Linked DNA regions of Homo sapiens: region 2 is linked to region 1. The links come from fine-mapping of genetic effects on gene expression. Tissue or cell type: thyroid. Region 1 holds a variant in brackets; the other region holds the start of a gene. All regions are shown on one strand. Distances are from middle to middle.

What was found. PIP is the estimated chance that this variant, and not a neighbour inherited with it, causes the effect. A credible set is the group of variants that fine-mapping cannot tell apart.
Region 2: it holds the start of KLK4, and the variant in region 1 is the best candidate, but not a certain one, in a credible set for the expression of KLK4 in thyroid (GTEx, PIP 0.73).

The regions. Positions count from the first base shown.
Region 1 is chr19:50,863,796-50,873,028 of GRCh38, reverse strand. No RefSeq gene overlaps it. Among named protein-coding and RNA genes, the nearest start is that of KLK2, 5.0 kb to the left of the region's middle. RefSeq lists promoters at 1-190, 1-6,609, enhancers at 2,242-2,536, 3,394-3,416, 3,177-3,763, 3,145-4,028, 3,236-4,403 and 1 more and a cis regulatory region at 3,394-3,416. The variant T/G (reference allele first, on the strand shown) is at 2,386.
Region 2 is chr19:50,907,219-50,917,127 of GRCh38, reverse strand. KLK4 (kallikrein related peptidase 4) reads left to right here and starts at 5,733. Exons shown (of 6, transcript NM_004917.5): 1 at 5,733-5,789; 2 at 6,379-6,450; 3 at 7,714-7,876; 4 at 8,299-8,549; 5 at 8,633-8,769. The coding sequence starts at 6,390.

The sequences.
Region 1 (9,233 bases):
CTCCCAGACTCAACCGATTCTCCTGTCTCAGCCTCCAGGATAGCTGAGACCACAAGCATGCACCACCACATCCAGCTAATTTTTAATTTTTTTGTAGAGAGAGGGTCTGGCTATGTTGCCTAGGCTGGTCTCCAACTCCTGGGCTCAAGCCATCCTCCCACTTCGGTCTCCCAAAGTGATGAGATTACAGGCGTGAGCCACCACGGCCAGCCCCAATCATTGATTTTCAATACAAAGTCTCATGTGCCTAAGTCCCAAGTACTTCCTTTGCACCCCAAACCTAATATGCCCTGAAATATCAGAATGATCGGATTGTGAGACTTCCTGGTCCCTATACCCGTCTGAGCCCAGAAGCTGGACCTCCAACTTACCATGTTCCTGAAATAGAAGCGTTGGCATTCAGTACTCTCTGATTCTTGCACTTCCACACTCAGAAAATGGTTCCCCACATACATTTCTCCCTCATCATAAAACCTTGTGATACCACATATTGTCCAATCCAGAAATATGACTCTCCCAGACCAAGTTCCCTATTATTTCAAAATCCAATGTCCACTAAACAATATGGGGTTCCGGTGGCTCCTCACTCCTCATTCTCCATGCCTGTACAACGTACAGGTACAGCGGGGATTCCTGTTGACCTGCCCTCCTAGGTCAGAATTGTCCTCATGCAAAATCCAATGCCTCCTTCTCACTGAAATGTCTAGCTATCAGGAGCCAGGTTTATACACTCCAAGATTAAGCTGCAAGCCAGGCACGGTGAGTGGCTCATGCCAGCAATCCCAGTGCTTTGGGAGTCCAAGGCTGAAGAATCACTTGAAGTCAGAAGTTCAAGATCAGCCAGGGCAACAAAGTGAGACCCTTTCTCTACAAAAAAAAAAAAAAAATTTAATTAGCCAGGTGTGGTGGCAAGCACCTGTAGCCCCATCTACTCAGGAGGCTGAAGCAGGAGGATCCCTTAAGTCCAGGAGGTCAAGGGTTCAGTGAGCTATGATCACACCACTGCGCTCCAGCCTGAGTGACAGAGCAAAAGACCCAGACTGTGTCTCAAAAAAAAAAAAAAAAAAAAAAAGAATTAGGGTGGCATTGAGAAATCTCATTTTGGTGTCTCAGAAAAGAATCAAGAATAAGAGTCCTGGTGTTAACTCTTATTATAAGAGTCCACTGTTAACTCTATAAGATTTCTTTGATTTTGAAAAAAAAAATGTGATTTCATCTGTTCAATAAAACCAGAGCAGCTTACGCTGATCCAGACCCAGCTGTGTCTCAAGAATTTGACAAAATCTTCCCCCATTTCCAGCTGAATGACCAGATCAATTCCAAGTACAGTGAAGGAGACAGAAGTGGACATAGATAATCACAATTCAAGACCAGGATAGAGGGATATTCACAGCCAGTGGCCTGATTTCCCCCACACAACCACTCGTTCCCTGGAATGACCGTCTGAAAGGAAATTTGCCTCAGCTTGAATGAGAACCACCTGAATCCAGTGTCCCAAGCATATCCTCATCCCCATGATAACCTCAACCAAAACCTGACCCAAACCAATTTAACACAGCCCAATCCAACCACATCACCCACAAGCCCAACCCATCAACCCAACACAACTTAATCTAATTCAAGACAACCCTAATAGCCTCCTTCATTTAAAGATCAAACCAAACTAATGCACATCCTCGCATGCAATAGCCAGCTCCATGTATTCTATCTCCAAAACTAAACCTACTTCATCCCCAATTCAATCCCCACACCCTTCCCAGCCAACATAAAAACAAACCTATTTCCATCCCAAAGCCATGCCATCCCAAACCACCTTTAAATTGCCAATCCCCAAACTCATCCGAAGCAGAATTTTACCCCATCTGTAACTCAACTCCAACCTGACCCTCCATTCTAACTGGTCTTCATACTCCGTTTTCAATGCTATATCCAGCACTTTATCTGGCCAAAGGAGATCAAACACAACCACATCCCACTTCTCGAGCCAGTCCACAGCCTCCTCCCCACCCGTCATGGCCCCCTCTGGGCTCTGACCACACAGGAGTCCGTGCCTTCACCCGCTCTTCCTGCACACACCATGGTGTTCATCAGGGCCCTGGGTAGTCCCTGTTACAAGATGTGGTACAGATGAAGCTGATGCTGGCACAGTGCCTCGTATCTGGGAGACTCACTTGGGAGGACAGTGGAGTGGGGCAAACCCGTAAGTTCAGGCTCCTGTGCCCTCCACCCAGAAGTCCTTGAGATTTCATGGACAGCGACATATGGCCATTCTCTAGCACCTTTCAGTCCTGGTTTCCTGTGGTTCTAGGATCTTTATCGGACACCAGGCCCCGGCCTGGCACCACGCAGGCCACATCCACCAGGGGACGCACGTCCACAGCTCCA[T/G]GGTTGGGACGTGACGGGAGAGGCGCGCTGCAGGGATAGTCGCAGCTACATGACGTCATGGCGCCGGCCTCGCCCGCATAGTGCAGATGCTGAATGATGAGTGGATGATGCCCCAGGCCTCGGGACATGGCACATGTGCAGATTATACTCGCGCAGGCGCACTCTTGTGGAACTAGAAGAGTAGGTGATTACCCTCAAGTGGAGTAAGGAGTAGATGGAAAGATCAAAGCATGGGCAACTCTCAGTCCTCTGACCCTTTGAGAATCAGGAGATTCCATTACCTTCACACCAAACCCTGGAGCCAATGGTTCCAGTCCTTGCTTCCCAGGGACCCACCAAGGAGTCTCAAGCTAACAAACCCCTGCAACTCAACCCCTCACAATTTCAGCCCCTTCTTCCCGAGGATACGGGATTCTTAGACCTCTCAGGCCATTCCCACGTCAGTACCTCGGAAGCTGGGACCTTACCAGTCTCCTCCCTTGGGGATTTAAGAGTTCAGAACCCACATTCCTCCTCTCCAAGGACATTCACCTCCAGCCTCTTCCTCCTTCGGAACCAAGGAGTATGGGCCCCCTCTGCACTCAAGCCCAGAAGTTCTGATCCCCACCCATGTCCCCTCGAAATTCTGAGCACTCCCTTATTCTGGGGTTGGCAGTGGGGCACTGCCAAACATGGTGGGGAACTGGACCTAGAAATCTTGGTTAGGCACAGTGAAGCCAGATGTGGTAGACACACTAATGATGGGATGTTAAGACTGTCCTGCAGACAAGAGTGGAAGGCTCTGGGTGAACAGTGTTGGGAGACAATTTTCCATGGTTCTCTTATGTTTCTGTGTGTCTTCTGAGCAAAGGCAATAATACCGTTTTCTTTTCTGGACCATCTTTTCAAGCATATTTGTACAGCAGATAGCCTTGCAAGATGGTATCGCCTTCAGATCTAGGTTTGCTTACTGCCTTAGATAATAAAGTTAACGTCTATTTTACAGCAGATTTGTTTACTGTTCAGGACAATAAATACAATATGTTCCTCCAGAGTAGGTCTGCTTTCAACCCAATTATAAAGATAATATCTCCGTCAGATACAAAGACTGGACAAGTTTGCTGGTACCTTCTTATAAGATTGAGGATTTCTAAGCCTAGGTTGCTCACCTTTGCCACAAACCCCTGTGTCCATCCACCTGAACTGCTCTGATCATCCCATATGAATTGGGGGGCAAAGTGAACAAATGTGAACACAAAGTTCATGCTGCCTCCTTAGCTGTGGGTAATAAAATCTTTTGCCTCTGACCCAGGAGTCTCATGAGTTCTACCAGCACAAAACTGGCAGGTTAGCTTATGTGTTTGCAAGTCGGTAAAATGTCAGCTCTTTCAGAGTTCTTTTTTTTTTCTCCCCTGTAGGATACACATTTATAGTTCTCTGCAAAGAGTTAGGTACTGTGGCTACACCTGGCCAGCTGGAGATGGAGCTGGGAAGAGTGGGCAGTAAGACTGAGGAAGGGGAGAGGGCACAGAGAGATTATGATGGGCTCCTGGTATCATAGAGGAAGTCTGAGATAACCTCAAAGTCAAGATCTGAGATAGGGGGTCAAGGAAAGTGCATCCCCCTTTCCGGGGCAGAGACATCCAGCCATAATTTCTCTGCAGACAATGTCTAATCATGGTCCTCTGGAGCCCCTTGCATCCAGAATGACTCTGACCTATTGGTCACCCCCTTCTTATCCACAGTCCTTTCCTCTGTCAAATGAGGCTAGTAGTGCCCACCCTGTAGCCATGTTGTGAGGATTAGATGAGCATCTGTGAGTGCTGAAAGCCATGCCTAATACTTTCTTAGCACTCAGCAATGTTAGCACACATAGAAGTCACTCTCCACAGCCAGACATGTGCTGGTGTCTCACACACATGACCACATTTGATCCTCACAATAACCCTGTGAAGGAGAGTGTGCAGTAAAGGATTCTCCTTGCCCAAAGAGGCCAGGTCTTTGCATTCAGCTCCTGAGAGGTCATCTCTAAGCTTTTGAAATATCCTGCCTGTTTAGAGTGCCTGTGTTTACACGGGAGCTTGGGCCACACTGGATAGTCTAACAATGTGATTTATGGTGACAATGTTGGGTTACAGCCTATCAGCTGTAGACGTCTGGAGGGGCTAAGTACTAAAGTTCAGCCATGAAGGTGGTCGACATGTCTGTGCAACCAAGCTCCAATATAATCAAGGCTCAGTTGAGTTCCCTGATTGGCAATACACTGAATATTATCACACATCATTGTATGGAGAAGATACTGCTTTCCATGACACCACTGGGAGAAAACAACAGGAATCTCTGCACTTGGAGCTCTCCTTGTCTTTGCCCCATGCAACTCTTCCCTTGCTAGATTTTCATCTCTATTCTTTTGCTGTAATAAACCATAGCCATGAGCATAACAGCTTTCATTGAGTTATATGAGGGCTACCAGCAATCACTGAACCTGAGGATGATCTTGGTGACTCCCTTGAAATCTCAATTGATGTCAGAAGTAAGGGCCATCTTGAGAACTCCTGAACTCTGCAGAGGGACTCTTATTTCCACTTTAAAGTAAAAGAATGTAAATCAGGTATGTTAATGCACTAGAAACTGGCAAAGCCAGGATTACCATATATAGGTAGAATCCAGGGAATATATTGGGAATGCATTTTTAAGGTGGGTGTAGAATAACGGTAGAAGGAATGTAAAGTTGGATCAGGCTGAAATTATTCATATGAACCTATTAAACAGAAATCCTAGGTTTAACATTGCAGCTAGGGAAGTGGGGAAAGGTTCTAATGGTTTATTCGGTTGTTTGGTTGAAACATGGACCAAAAGATAGCCCACTGTATATGAAGTTGAAATGCCAGACCGGGTCACTGACTACAGACTCCAGCCCTAGAAGGCAGAACCAGGACTGGAGATGTCCTACTCAAGATAATAGAATTCTGACCACAGATTTCAGATTCTAGATGCCTCAAGGACAGACATTAGGATTCAGAGCAAATACCAAACCCCAAACCACAGTCGCAACATGTCAAATATGTGCTCCGGAAGCCAACCCCAAACTGCTGAAGCCAAGCTTCAGACTTCAGCCCCATACTCCTGATTCTAGGCTGAAGAAGCCAAGCTCCAGGTTCTATATTCCCACACTCTAGAACTCAGGAAAATCTCTGGGACAGTAGTTCTCAAACATTTTCCATCTTTGGACACATTTACACTCTTAACAATTATTGAGGGCCCTCCAAGAGCTTTTATTTATGTGGATTATATCTATCCATATTTATCATATTAAACATTTGTTTCATGGTGGGCAGGGTTGTGCAACCTACCCCAAAGTCTGAGGAAGCTGAGAGTCCAAAGAAACAAGCTGACAAATCCAGTTTCTTAGAAAGAAACATTTAATAGAGACTTACCAACAGAAGCCATGTCTGTGTCTCAGGTGGCAGCCAGACAAGATGGTGGACCCCTCTGCCATTATCCCCCAAGACCCAGGGCTTATATGCCATAGGGGAGGAGTCATTCAGAAGGAATGTGTAAGACAATTGAAGTACGATGCCATCAAGGTTGTTTGACCTAAGGACAGGATTTATGGTAAATACCTGCTATTTGGCAAGAAAGAATACATAAACTTGGAATTTTGGAGATCCTTGTATTAGTCCGTTCTCACACTGCTGTAAAGAAATACTCAAGACTGGTAATTTATACAGAAAAGAGGTTTAATTGGCTGATGGTTCTGCAGGCTGTACAGGAAGCATGGTGGCATCTGCTTCTGGGGAGGCCTCAGGGGGCTTTTACTTATGGTAGAAGGCAAAGCAGGAGCAGGTATCTTACATGGCAGTAGGAGGACCAAGAGAGGGAGGGGAGGGGCCACACACTTTTAAATGACCAGATCTCACGAGAACTCACTCACTATCACTGTAACACCACAAAGAAGAAAATCTACTCCCATGACCGAATCACCTACCACCAAGTCCCACCTCCGAACACTGGGGATTACAATTTAACATGAGATTTGGGCAATGACACAGACCCAAACTGTCAGTCTTCCCAGAACAGGGGTTAATCAGAAGCCACCATGGCAGGTTAGCTTTCAGGATAGGTTGCTTTACCTTCTTATTCAAGGTGGAGTTGCTCTGACCTCCACACTCTACCCCCCGAATCTGGCTCTTACAATTTCATGTTTCCTCCTCTTCCATGATGGTCCCTGATCCTTTAGTGAGGGTTTTAAATGTATAGCTTTAGCAGCAGTGCATCAGCAATCTGAAGCAGATCAAGCCCAGTGGATTGCATATGAGGAGATTCACCAGCTGTGTTGAGTCATCTCTAGTCCTCAGAATACCATGGCTTCAGTTTTCTCAAAAGAAGGAAAACTATGAGATACACATAACAATAATTTGAAGAGTAGAACTGTAAGGCACACAAGCTAGAACACCAAAAACAAGAAAACTGTTCTAGTAAAGAGCCAGATAAATGTGTCACGAAGACAATGAAAACCAAGTTCTTCTTTAGAGAGTTTTTGCAACCAGAAAATAATTCAGGATTTAGCTCAAATTGTAGGCACATATAAAAATTCAGAAAAAAAGGTCAGATGCAATCTAAATTTTTCTCTATTTTCCCTGTTCTTACCAAGAGTAAATCATAGCAGGACCAATTTATTTGCAAAATAAATTTTGGCCTCATTATATTTGGCCTGTTTATTTGTGTAAAGTATAGCAAGAAGAGTGATCAGCCATACAGGCCCCTTTTAAGGTAGCTTAGCTGGAGCTTTTATAAAAAATTTTGGATTCGACTTTTAAGAGCCTAAAGTCTTGAAGCCAAGCCACGCCAAAGATTTGCCATTAGGCTGTGCTTGTAATACCTGTATGAATTCCTCTCTTCTCAAGGTCCCAAAATATCTTGAGGTTCTTGGACCTCTTAGAAAATGACATTCTTGGCTGGGCACAGTGGCTCACACCTGTAATCCCAGCACTTTGGGAGGCCAAGGCAGGCAGATCGTTTGAGGTCAGGAGTTTCAAACCAGCCTGGCCAACATGGCACAACCCCGTCTCTACTAAAAATACAAAAATTAGTCGGGCGTGGTGGCGGGCGCCTATAATCCCAGCTACTTGGAAGGCTGATGCAGGAGAATCAGTTGAACCCAGGAGGCAGAGGTTGCAGTGAGCCAAGATCGTGCCACTGCACTGCAGCCTGGGCAACAGAGCAATACTCCATCAAAAAAAAAAAAAAAGAAAGAGAGAAAGAAAGAGAAAGAAAGAAAGAAGGACAAAAAGAAAGAAAGAAAGAAAGAAAGAAAGAAAGAAAGAAAGAAAGAAAAGAAAGAAAGAAAGAGGGAAAGAAAAGAAAGAAAGAAAGAGGGAAAGAAAATGAGAGTAGACCTTTCACATATACAAAAGCTAACTCAAGATGCATTAAAAATGCAAATGTTTACATTCAGACTTTCAAAATTCTAGAAGAAAACCTAGGAAATACTCTTCTTGACCCAGACCTTGGCAAAGAGTTTATGACTAAGTCCCCAAAAGCAATTGCAACAAAAACAAAAATTGGCAGGTGGTTTCTAATTAAACTAAGATGCTTCGGCACAGCAAAAGAAGCCATCAATAGAGTAAACAGACAACCTACAGAATGGAAGAGAGTATTCACAAACTATGCATCCAATAAGAAGTCTAATATCCAGAATCTATAAGGAACTTAAACTAAAAAGCAAAAAATAATCCCATTAAAGTGGCCAAAAGGCATGAAGAGACACTTCTCAAAAGACGTACAAGCAGCCAACAAATATGAAAAAATGCTCATTGTCACTGATCATCAGAGAAATTCAAATGAAAACCACAATGAGATACCATTTCACGCCAGTCAGAGTGGCTATTATTAAAAAGTAAAAATTTGCTTAAGTTCCTTGTAGATTCTGGATATTCTTGACCTTTGTCAGATGAATAGATTGCAAAAATTTCCTCCCATTCTGTAGGTTGTCTGTTTGCCCTGTCAGGGTGAGGGTGGGGCAGTAGTGAGAGCATTAGGGAAAAGAGCTAATGCAGGCAGGGCTTCATACCCAGGTAATGGGTTGACAGGTGCAGCAAACCACCATGGCTCACGTTTACTACCTATGTAACAAACCTGCACATCCTGCACATGTACCCTGGGAAAACAACAACATATTCTTTTTTAAAATAAAGAAAAAAAAACCATGATGACAAAGCTGTGGAGAAAAGGGAATGCTTATATACTGTTCGTGGAAATGTAAATTAGTTTGTTCTCTATGGCAAACAGTTTGGAAAATTCTCAAAGAATTTTAAACAGAGCCACCGTTCAACCCAGCACTCCTATTAATGACTGTATACCCAAAGGAATGCAAATCATTATACCAAAAAGACACATTCATTCATATGTCTACTGCCACACTGCACACAATAGCAAAACTGTGGAATCCATGGAATCTACCTAGTTGCCCATCAATGGTGGATTGGTTAAAGAAAATGTGGTATATATGGGCCGGGCGCAGTGGCTCACCCCTGTAATCCCAGCACTTTGGGAGACCGAGGCAGGTGGACCACAAGGTCAGGAGATCAAGACCATCCTGGCTAACACAGTGAAACCCCCATCTCTACTAAAAACACACAAAAAAATTAGCCGGACGTGGTGGCGGGCGCCTGTAGTCCCAGCTACTTGGGAAGCTGAGACAGAAGAATGACGTGAACCCCGGAGGTGAAGCTTGCAGTGAGCCGAGATCGTGCTACTGCACTCCAGCCTAGGCAGCAAAGCAAGACTCCGTCTCAAAAAAAAAAAAGAAAGAAAATGTGATCTATACGCAATATGGAATACTGCATGGCCATGAAAAATGAATCATA
Region 2 (9,909 bases), 44 kb before region 1:
TCACACCAGGACTTTTGAGTTTTCTTCCTACTGAATATCCTATCGTCCATACTAAGGAAGGAAAAGACTTTTCTTGTGTAATACAATCTGCCCCAAGGTAGCCTTATGTTATTGAATAAAAGGCAAGGATGGGCCGGGTGTGGTGGTGTGTGCCTGTAATCCCCACTATTCGGGAGGCTGAGGCAGGGGAATTGCTTGAACCTGGGAGGAGTAGGTTGCAGTGAACCGAGATCCCACCACTGGACTCCAGCCTGGGCGACAGAGCGAGACTCCATCTCAAAAAAAAAAAAAAAAAAAAAAAAAGCAAGAGTGATGCCTTCTTCCACCCTTGAGGTTTGTTCAAATCCAGCCGACAGGAGTTCCCTGAGGTTACTGAGGAAAACTCAGGGGTCAGTTCCCTAAGGGCTGCTCTGGGCACCTCAGCAGAGATGGCTGGGGCTGCCTCGGGGCCTTAGTGCAGCGGCACCACTGCATCCAGAGATTCATGCCTCTTGTGGCTCAGCCAGCCCCCAGGGGGATGGGAGGTAGAAGGGGCTTGTTCTTCCAGTTATACAGTAAGAGCGGGCTCTCTCGGTGGGCGGGTGGCCCCGTCTGTGGCCGCATTCCCTCCCCTCCCCAGCAATACTCCCTGGCTTCTCTGGCTGAGGCTGCATCTCATCCGCAGGTGGGGGTGAACTCAGATGACTCAGATGATGGATAGTGGGCCAGGGTGGGCCCCCATGACCTGTGTATCTACAGGAAGGCCCACCTGTCCTTTGGCTTCAGCTTCTGTTTCCTGACTTATAGAGAGAGGTGGCATAACAGCTCAAGATATGGGCTCTGGGGTCAGGCAGCCCATGTGCATGGCTGCTTTGCTGTGTGATCTTCAATAAGTAGCTTGCCCTCTCTGTGCGTTCATTTCCTCTTTCATCACATTGGGAATAATGATGAGTACCTCAGGGAGTTATGAAAATTAAAACTAGTTAACTTGTATAAAATTGTTACCATGACAACTAGAAGAGAGGTGATAGATAAATGTTAGATATTTTATCATTATTATTATTACTTGTTTGTTTTCTGAGACAGAGTTTCACTCTTGTTACCTAGGCTGGAGTGCAATGGCGCGATCTCGACTCACTGCAACCTCTGCCTCCCGGGTTCAAGTAATTCTCCTGCCTCAGCCTCCCAAGTTGCTGGGATTACAGGGGCCCACCACCACGCCCAGGTAATTTTTGTATTTTTAGTAGAGATGGGGTTTTGCCATGTTGGCCAGGCTGGTCTCGAACTCCTGACCTCAGATGATCCACCCGCCTCAGCCTCCCAAAGTGCTGGGATTGCAGGCGTGAGCCACCGCGCCCAACCTGATATTTTATTATTTTTAAAGTGATGATTATTCCTAATTCCTGAGACGTGTCTCTCTTTCAGCGTCTTCCTATCTTTTTGGCCACATCTCTCAGTGTGTTCCCAGCTCTCTCCTACTCTCCATCTACCCACTTCTGTCTGTTCTTCTCTTTTGGCCTCAGTCTTTCTGTGACCTTGGTAAACTACTTACCCTCTCTGTGCCTCAGTTTCTCCATCTGTCAAACAAAGTTCATAGCAGCATCTACTTCTTAGATTTTTTTGAGGAATACATTTGTTATTGCATTTAAAATACTTAGAAGAGGGCCAGACATAAGGTAAGTTCTTGACCTCCTTACAATTAATTTAACATATTCTAAAGGTTAATTAATAGTAAGCTACCATTGTTGTCTGTTGTTATTTTCTCTCTCCGTCAGCCTTCATCTCTCCCTCTCCTGTCTGTCTCTCTCTATTTTTGTATCTCCCTTTATCCATCCACTCAACACATCTGCAGTGAATAGTTTTTATCAGTGAACATAACAGACACCAGCCCTGTCCCCAAGGGGCTCCCACACTAATGAAAGAAACAGCTACTAGAAAAATAAACACACAAGACGGGCGCGGTGGCTCTCGCCTGTAATCCCAGCACTTTGGGAGGCCAAGGTGGGCGGATCACCTGAAGTCAGGAGTTTGAGACCAGCCTAGCCAACATGGTGAAACCCCATCTCTACTAAAAATACAAAAATTAGCCAGAATTGGTGGCAGGCACCTATAATCCCAGTTACTGGGGAGGCTGAGGCAGGAGAATCGCTTGAACCCGGGGGGCGGAGGTTGCAGTGAGCAGAGATCGCACCACTCTACTCCAGCCTGGGTAACACAGTGAGACTCCATCTCAAAGAAACAAACAAACAAACAAAAAAGAAAAAAAAAGAAAAAGAAACACATAATAATACGTGTATACATTGTACCAAATTCTCTAAAGGAGCATGTAGGATGCTATAAGATGAAAAAACAAATAGGGGAGTGAAGACCCTGAATCAGACTAGGGGAGGGCTCAGGGAAGGGCTCTGAAGAAGTAACACTTGAGTTGAGACACAATGAAGAGAGCGAAGGGAGAAGTGTTGGAAGCGCATGGAAAACAAAGACAGAGCAACATGAGAGAAGACAGGAGGAAAGTGGAGACAGAGAAAGATAGACAGAGACAAAGGTGCAGAGCCACAGACAGAGAGACAGAGACAGAGATGGGAGGAGAGAGACACAGAGAAAGATGGACAGAGACAGGTGCGGAGACACAGACAGAGAGACAGAGACAGAGATGGGAGGAGAGAGACACAGAGAAAGATGGACAGACACACAGGTGCGGAGACACAGACAGAGAGACAGAGACAGAGATGGGAGGAGAGAGAGACACAGAGAAAGATGGACAGAGACATGTGCGAAGCCACAGACAGAGAGACAGAGACAGAGATGGGAGGAGAGAGAGAGACACAGAGAAAGATGGACAGAGACACAGGTGCGGAGACACAGACAGAGAGACAGAGACAGAGATGGGAGGAGAGAGACACAGAGAAAGATGGACAGACACACAGGTGCGGAGACACAGACAGAGAGACAGAGACAGAGATGGGAGGAGAGAGACACAGAGAAAGATGGACAGACACAGGTGCAGAGACAGACAGAGAGACAGAGACAGAGATGGGAGGAGAGAGACACAGAGAAAGATGGACAGACAGGTGCGGAGACAGACAGAGAGACAGAGACAGAGATGGGAGGAGAGAGAGACAGAGAAAGATGGACAGACACACAGGTGCGGAGACACAGACAGAGAGACAGAGACAGAGATGGGAGGAGAGAGAGACACAGAGAAAGATGGACAGAGACAGGTGCGAAGCCACAGACAGAGAGACAGAGACAGAGATGGGAGGAGAGAGAGACACAGAGAAAGATGGACAGAGACACAGGTGCGGAGACACAGACAGAGAGACAGAGACAGAGATGGGAGGAGAGAGAGACACAGAGAAAGATGGACAGACACACAGGTGCGGAGACACAGACAGAGAGACAGAGACAGAGATGGGAGGAGAGAGACACAGAGAAAGATGGACAGACACAGGTGCAGAGACAGACAGAGAGACAGAGACAGAGATGGGAGGAGAGAGACACAGAGAAAGATGGACAGACAGGTGCGGAGACAGACAGAGAGACAGAGACAGAGATGGGAGGAGAGAGACACAGAGAAAGATGGACAGAGACAGGTGCGGAGCCACAGACAGAGACAGAGATGGGAGGAGAGAGACACAGAGAAAGATGGACAGACACAGGTGCAGAGACACAGACAGAGAGAGAAGGCAAGGTGAGACAGAGACAGGAGGAAAGAGAGACACACAGGGGCAGACAGAGACAGACAGAGATCAGAGGGTCACAGACAGAGGTCAGAGGGAGAGCGAGAGAGAAGGGATCAGAGAGAGAAAGGGACAGGGACAGGGAAAAGAGAGACAGAGACAGAAACCTGCCAGGGCTTCCTGTTCTGTGGTCCCAGCCTATGTCCCGTCCTGCCCAGAGTTATCTGGGGGCGCACGGGCCCAGGACAGAGTTGGGGGAGGGTCTCACTTGGGATGCTTCCAGTCTGGCAGGTGAGAGAAACAGAGACAAGGGGGAGAGAGACAGAGATGGGACCAGAGAGGCAGAGGAAAAGAGAGCCAGAGAGAAAGAGAGACAGACACACGGGGTGGGCTGTGGGGGAAAGAAGTAAGGAAGGAGAAGGAAAGAGTGTTAGAGACCCAGGAGAGACAGAGAGACACAGAGACATTCCTGCCTCGTCGCGGTCACCTGCGGGCACTATCCCTCACCCGCGCCGGCTCCGCGGTCTACACCCACCCACTCCTTGGATGATCTCACCCGGCCTCGTGGCTGTAAACACCACCTCTCCCCTGATGAGTCCCCGCTGTTTCTCGGCAGTCCTGACCTCGGCCTGCCCCTCCGTGCACCCTCCGCGGTCTACGGCACCCTCTCACCCCCCACCCCCCTTCCCGCACCTATGCGTCTCCACAAGATCCGTAGAGCGCAAGCCAGCAGACCAAGCCTCCACGCCATCCTTGGCCCCTCTGCTCCTGGCCCCCCACTTTCCATCCATCGGGCAGTAACTTGGCTCCACATGCAGAGGGGACCCCGTGTCCATTCACCTCTCTTCTCCCTTGACCCCGTCACCTCCCACCTGGGCTGTTGCCACTGCCCCCCGCCCCGCCCCCACCATCACTCTCCAAGCTGGAAGTTTTTAAAAAGTAAATAAGATTATGTCACTCCATCCTCGTGCTTAAAATCCATTGCACTTAAGTAAAACCCAAGCTCCTTAATCCTGGTACGTAAACTCCTGCAGGCCCGCCCGGTTCCCGGTCTGCGCTCCTACCCGCCCTGCCCTCCTACCCGCCCTGCCCTCCTCTGGCTGGAGCCAAGTTCTCCCCTGCACCCCGCAACCGCCCCTGCTGCGGCGACCCTCCTCCTCCTCTTCCCTGGGATCTCAGCTTAAATGTTCCCCTTCTCTGAGTCTCCCCGACCACCACCTTATATGCTGGTCCCTGCAGTTTTCCTTTATGGTCTGTGCCCCCGGGTAGGACGCGATCCCCAGTGACGAGGACTTTGCTGGTTCCTCCTGTGGCCCCAGCACCTGCCGCAGAGCTCGGAGTGTGGTAGGCACTCAGCTGCTTTTCACTGAGCGAAGACTTTTTAGTTCTCCCGCTCACCGAGAGCCTACAATGTGCCTGGCACTGTGTGCCTTTCCCTGAATTACCTCTTTGAATCCACTTGGGAAATGGGGCATAATGGTCACTCCAGTTTTACAGTTGGAAAAACAGGCTCACAGGGGTGCAGTCACTTGCCCAAGGTTCCAAAAATAGTTCGTGATGTAGGCTGGATACGAACCTGGGGAAATTTGCTGGAGAAGCACAGAAAGAGAGGGATGAAGGAGGAGGGGAGAGAGAGAGAGAGATTTAATTTAAAAAGAGAAAGAACATGAGAGAGAACAGGAGAGAATGAGAGGAAATGAAAGAAAACACGAGAAAAATAATGAGAGAGAGAATGAGAGAAAGAAAGAAGAAGAGAAAGAGAAAATGAGAGATACAGGCAAGAGAGAGGTATCTCATGAGAGAGAATAAGAACATGAAAAGAGAAAGAATGAGAGAGAGAGAGAGAAAGAAAAAGGAGAGTGGAGTCTAGGATCTGGGCAGGGGTCTCCTCCCTGGGTCCCTAGACCCTGCTGCCAGCCCCTTCTGGGCCCCCAACCACTGCCTGGTCAGAGTTGAGGCAGCCTGAGAGAGTTGAGCTGGAAGTTTGCAGCACCTGACCCCTGGAACACATCCCCTGGGGGCAGGCCAGCCCAGGCTGAGGATGCTTATAAGCCCCAAGGAGGCCCCTGCGGGAGGCAGCAGGCTGGAGCTCAGCCCAGCAGTGGAATCCAGGAGCCCAGAGGTGGCCGGGTAAGAGGCCTGGTGGTCCCCCACTAAAAGCCTGCAGTGTTCATGATCCAACTCTCCCTACAGCTCCATGTCGCTGGATTCTCAGCCTCTGTGCCTTCTGTCTCCACATCTCTCTAGACAGATCTCTCACTGTCTCTAGTTAGGAGTCACTGTCTCTAGTTAGGGGTCTCTCTGTCTCTCTGAATCTATATCTCCATGTCTAACTCTCAGACTGTCTCTGAGGATATCTCTCAAGCACTCTGTCTCTCCGGCTCTGATTCTCTGTGTGTCTTCCCTCCATGCTTGTTTGTGGGTGGCTAGACACCATCTCTCCCCATTCACAGATGGCTAGATGCTTTCTCTAAACTTTCCTTTCTACCTAGTTCTCTCTCTCTCTCTCTTTTCCCATCTCTCTCTCTCTTTTTCTCTCTCAGTCTCTAAATCTGTCTCTCTAGGTTCTGGGTCCATGGATGGGAGAGGGGGTAGATGGTCTAGGCTCTTGCCTACCTAATAACGTCCCAGAGGGAAGAAAGGGAGGGACAAAGAGAGGGATGGAGAGACTTGGGCTGAAGATCCCCAGACACGGCTAAGTCTCAGTCCTCATCCCCAGGTGCTGACGTGATGGCCACAGCAGGAAATCCCTGGGGCTGGTTCCTGGGGTACCTCATCCTTGGTGTCGCAGGTATCTGAGTATGCGTGTGTGTGTCTGTCCGTGCTTGGGGGCACAGTGTTTGTTAATGTTCAGGTGTGACTCAGTGTCCTCTTGCTTGTGACTGCAAAGCTGCCTGTGAGACGGTACCGTGTTATCCGTCCCCCATGGCTGTGCCCCTGCAACTCCTTGTATCGTGGTAAATTTGTGTGTGGCAGTGTGCCTGGGTGTGTGGTTGTACCTGTGAGACTCTGACAGTTTGTGCCTCTGAATATCTGGTGGAGTGACAACAGTGTAATGATGATATGGGGACAGGGGAAGCCGAGGGTGCAGGAGATTGTGCTTCCTGGGGCGTGATCCATTGCTGGGAATCTGTGCCTGCTTCCTGGGTCTTCAGTCCTGAGATCCCCCTCTCCCATCCCCAAGGAACTCACCTCACAGGACTATAAAACGGTGTTTTGGTGTGCATGGGCTTGTGGCTTGGTGTGACTGTGGGCAAGGCTGGGAGAGGATAGGAGTGACTCGGCGCAGGACCGACTCTTTGAGCATCAGTCTGCGCAGACAAGTGACCCGATCCTTGCTCCCAGCAACAACTCCACCCCCTGAGCTTTAATTCACCCCGAAGGACCCGATCCTACTGCTATGAGCCTAGACTCCTCTGTTGAACCCCTCCTGACCGTGGCTTTGCACCGCGATGGCACCAGTCTCACCTCCAGAGCTCACCCCAGAGCCCTGACTCCGCCCCAGAAGCCCTGGTCCCACCTTCTGAGACTGCCTCTAGCCATAACCCAGCTCTTGAAGCCTTGATGGCGCCCCTGCGCTGTAACCCCAACCCTAGGAGCACTGATCCCGCCTTCTCAGCCCACCCCCATGCCCTGACTCTCCTCCCAGGAGCCCTGACTACCCTGAATCCCTGACCAGGCTCCTGCACCGTGATCACCGCCCCTGGGAGCCCTAGGCCTATATCCTGGACCAGCCCCTGAAGCTCCGATCATGACCCCTGCACCATAACCCCACCCCCAGGAGCCCTGGGTCCGCCCCCTGGGCCCGCCCCCAGCCCTGACTCGGCCCCCCAAGAGTCCTGACTGCTCCTGAAGCCCTGACCACGCCCCTGCTCGGTAACCCCTCCCCCAAGAGCCCTGGGCCCGCCTCCTGAGCCCGTTCCCAGCCCTGACTCCGCCCCGAGGAGCCCTGACTGCTCCTGAACCTCTGACCACGCCCCTGCTCGGTAAGCCCACCCCCAGGAACCCTGGGCCCGCCTCCTGGTCCCGATCCCATCCCTGACTCCGCCCTCAGGATCGCTCGTCTCTGGTAGCTGCAGCCAAATCATAAACGGCGAGGACTGCAGCCCGCACTCGCAGCCCTGGCAGGCGGCACTGGTCATGGAAAACGAATTGTTCTGCTCGGGCGTCCTGGTGCATCCGCAGTGGGTGCTGTCAGCCGCACACTGTTTCCAGAAGTGAGTGCAGAGGTAGGGGGAGTGGGCAGGGCCTGGGTCCGGGGGCGGGGCCTAATATCAGGCTCATCTTGGGGTGCTCAGGGGGAAACAGCGGTGAAGGCTCTGGGAGGAGGACGGAATGAGCCTGGATCCGGGGAGCCCCAGAGGGAAGGGCTGGGAGGCGGGAATCTTGCTTCGGAAGGACTCAGAGAGTCCTGACTTGAAATCTCAGCCCAGTGCTGAGTCTCTAGTGAACTAAGGCAAGTTCTTGTCCCTGAATTTTTGTGAATGAGGATTTGAGACCATGGTTAAGTAGCTCTTAGGGTGTTTAGCGAAGAGGGTGGGGTTGGGGTTAGGAGATGGGGATGGGAATGGGGTTGAAGATGAGAATGGAGGTAAGGATGTAGTTGCCACAAAACTGACCTGCCCTCCGTGGCCCACAGCTCCTACACCATCGGGCTGGGCCTGCACAGTCTTGAGGCCGACCAAGAGCCAGGGAGCCAGATGGTGGAGGCCAGCCTCTCCGTACGGCACCCAGAGTACAACAGACCCTTGCTCGCTAACGACCTCATGCTCATCAAGTTGGACGAATCCGTGTCCGAGTCTGACACCATCCGGAGCATCAGCATTGCTTCGCAGTGCCCTACCGCGGGGAACTCTTGCCTCGTTTCTGGCTGGGGTCTGCTGGCGAACGGTGAGCTCACGGGTGTGTGTCTGCCCTCTTCAAGGAGGTCCTCTGCCCAGTCGCGGGGGCTGACCCAGAGCTCTGCGTCCCAGGCAGAATGCCTACCGTGCTGCAGTGCGTGAACGTGTCGGTGGTGTCTGAGGAGGTCTGCAGTAAGCTCTATGACCCGCTGTACCACCCCAGCATGTTCTGCGCCGGCGGAGGGCAAGACCAGAAGGACTCCTGCAACGTGAGAGAGGGGAAAGGGGAGGGCAGGCGACTCAGGGAAGGGTGGAGAAGGGGGAGACAGAGACACACAGGGCCGCATGGCGAGATGCAGAGATGGAGAGACACACAGGGAGACAGTGACAACTAGAGAGAGAAACTGAGAGAAACAGAGAAATAAACACAGGAATAAAGAGAAGCAAAGGAAGAGAGAAACAGAAACAGACATGGGGAGGCAGAAACACACACACATAGAAATGCAGTTGACCTTCCAACAGCATGGGGCCTGAGGGCGGTGACCTCCACCCAACAGAAAATCCTCTTATAACTTTTGACTCCCCAAAAACCTGACTAGAAATAGCCTACTGTTGACGGGGAGCCTTACCAATAACATAAATAGTCGATTTATGCATACGTTTTATGCATTCATGATATACCTTTGTTGGAATTTTTTGATATTTCTAAGCTACACAGTTCGTCTGTGAATTTTTTTAAATTGTTGCAACTCTCCTAAAATTTTTCTAATGTGTTTATTGAAAAAATCCAAGTATAAGTGGACTTGTGCAGTTCAAACCAGGGTTGTTCAAGGGTCAACTGTGTACCCAGAGGGAAACAGTGACACAGATTCATAGAGGTGAAACACGAAGAGAAACAGGAAAAATCAAGACTCTACAAAGAGGCTGGGCAGGGTGGCTCATGCCTGTAATCCCAGCACTTTGGGAGGCGAGGCAGGCAGATCACTTGAGGTAAGGAGTTCAAGACCAGCCTGGCCAAAATGGTGAAATCCTGTCTGTACTAAAAATACAAAAGTTAGCTGGATATGGTGGCAGGCGCCTGTAATCCCAGCTACTTGGGAGGCTGAGGCAGAAGAATTGCTTGAATATGGGAGGCAGAGGTTGAAGTGAGTTGAGATCACACCACTATACTCCAGCTGGGGCAACAGAGTAAGACTCTGTCTCAAAAAAAAAAAAAAAAAAAAGACTTTACAAAGAGATGCAGAGACACTGAGACAGATAAACAAGCCACAAAGGAGACAAAGGAGAGACAGACAAACAGAAACAGACAGACCACAAGCCCAAGAGAAGCAGCCAGCATTCAGGACATAGGACATCGGGAAGCAGGATTAGATGAAGTCAGGGATCTGGAATGGGACTTCCAACAGATA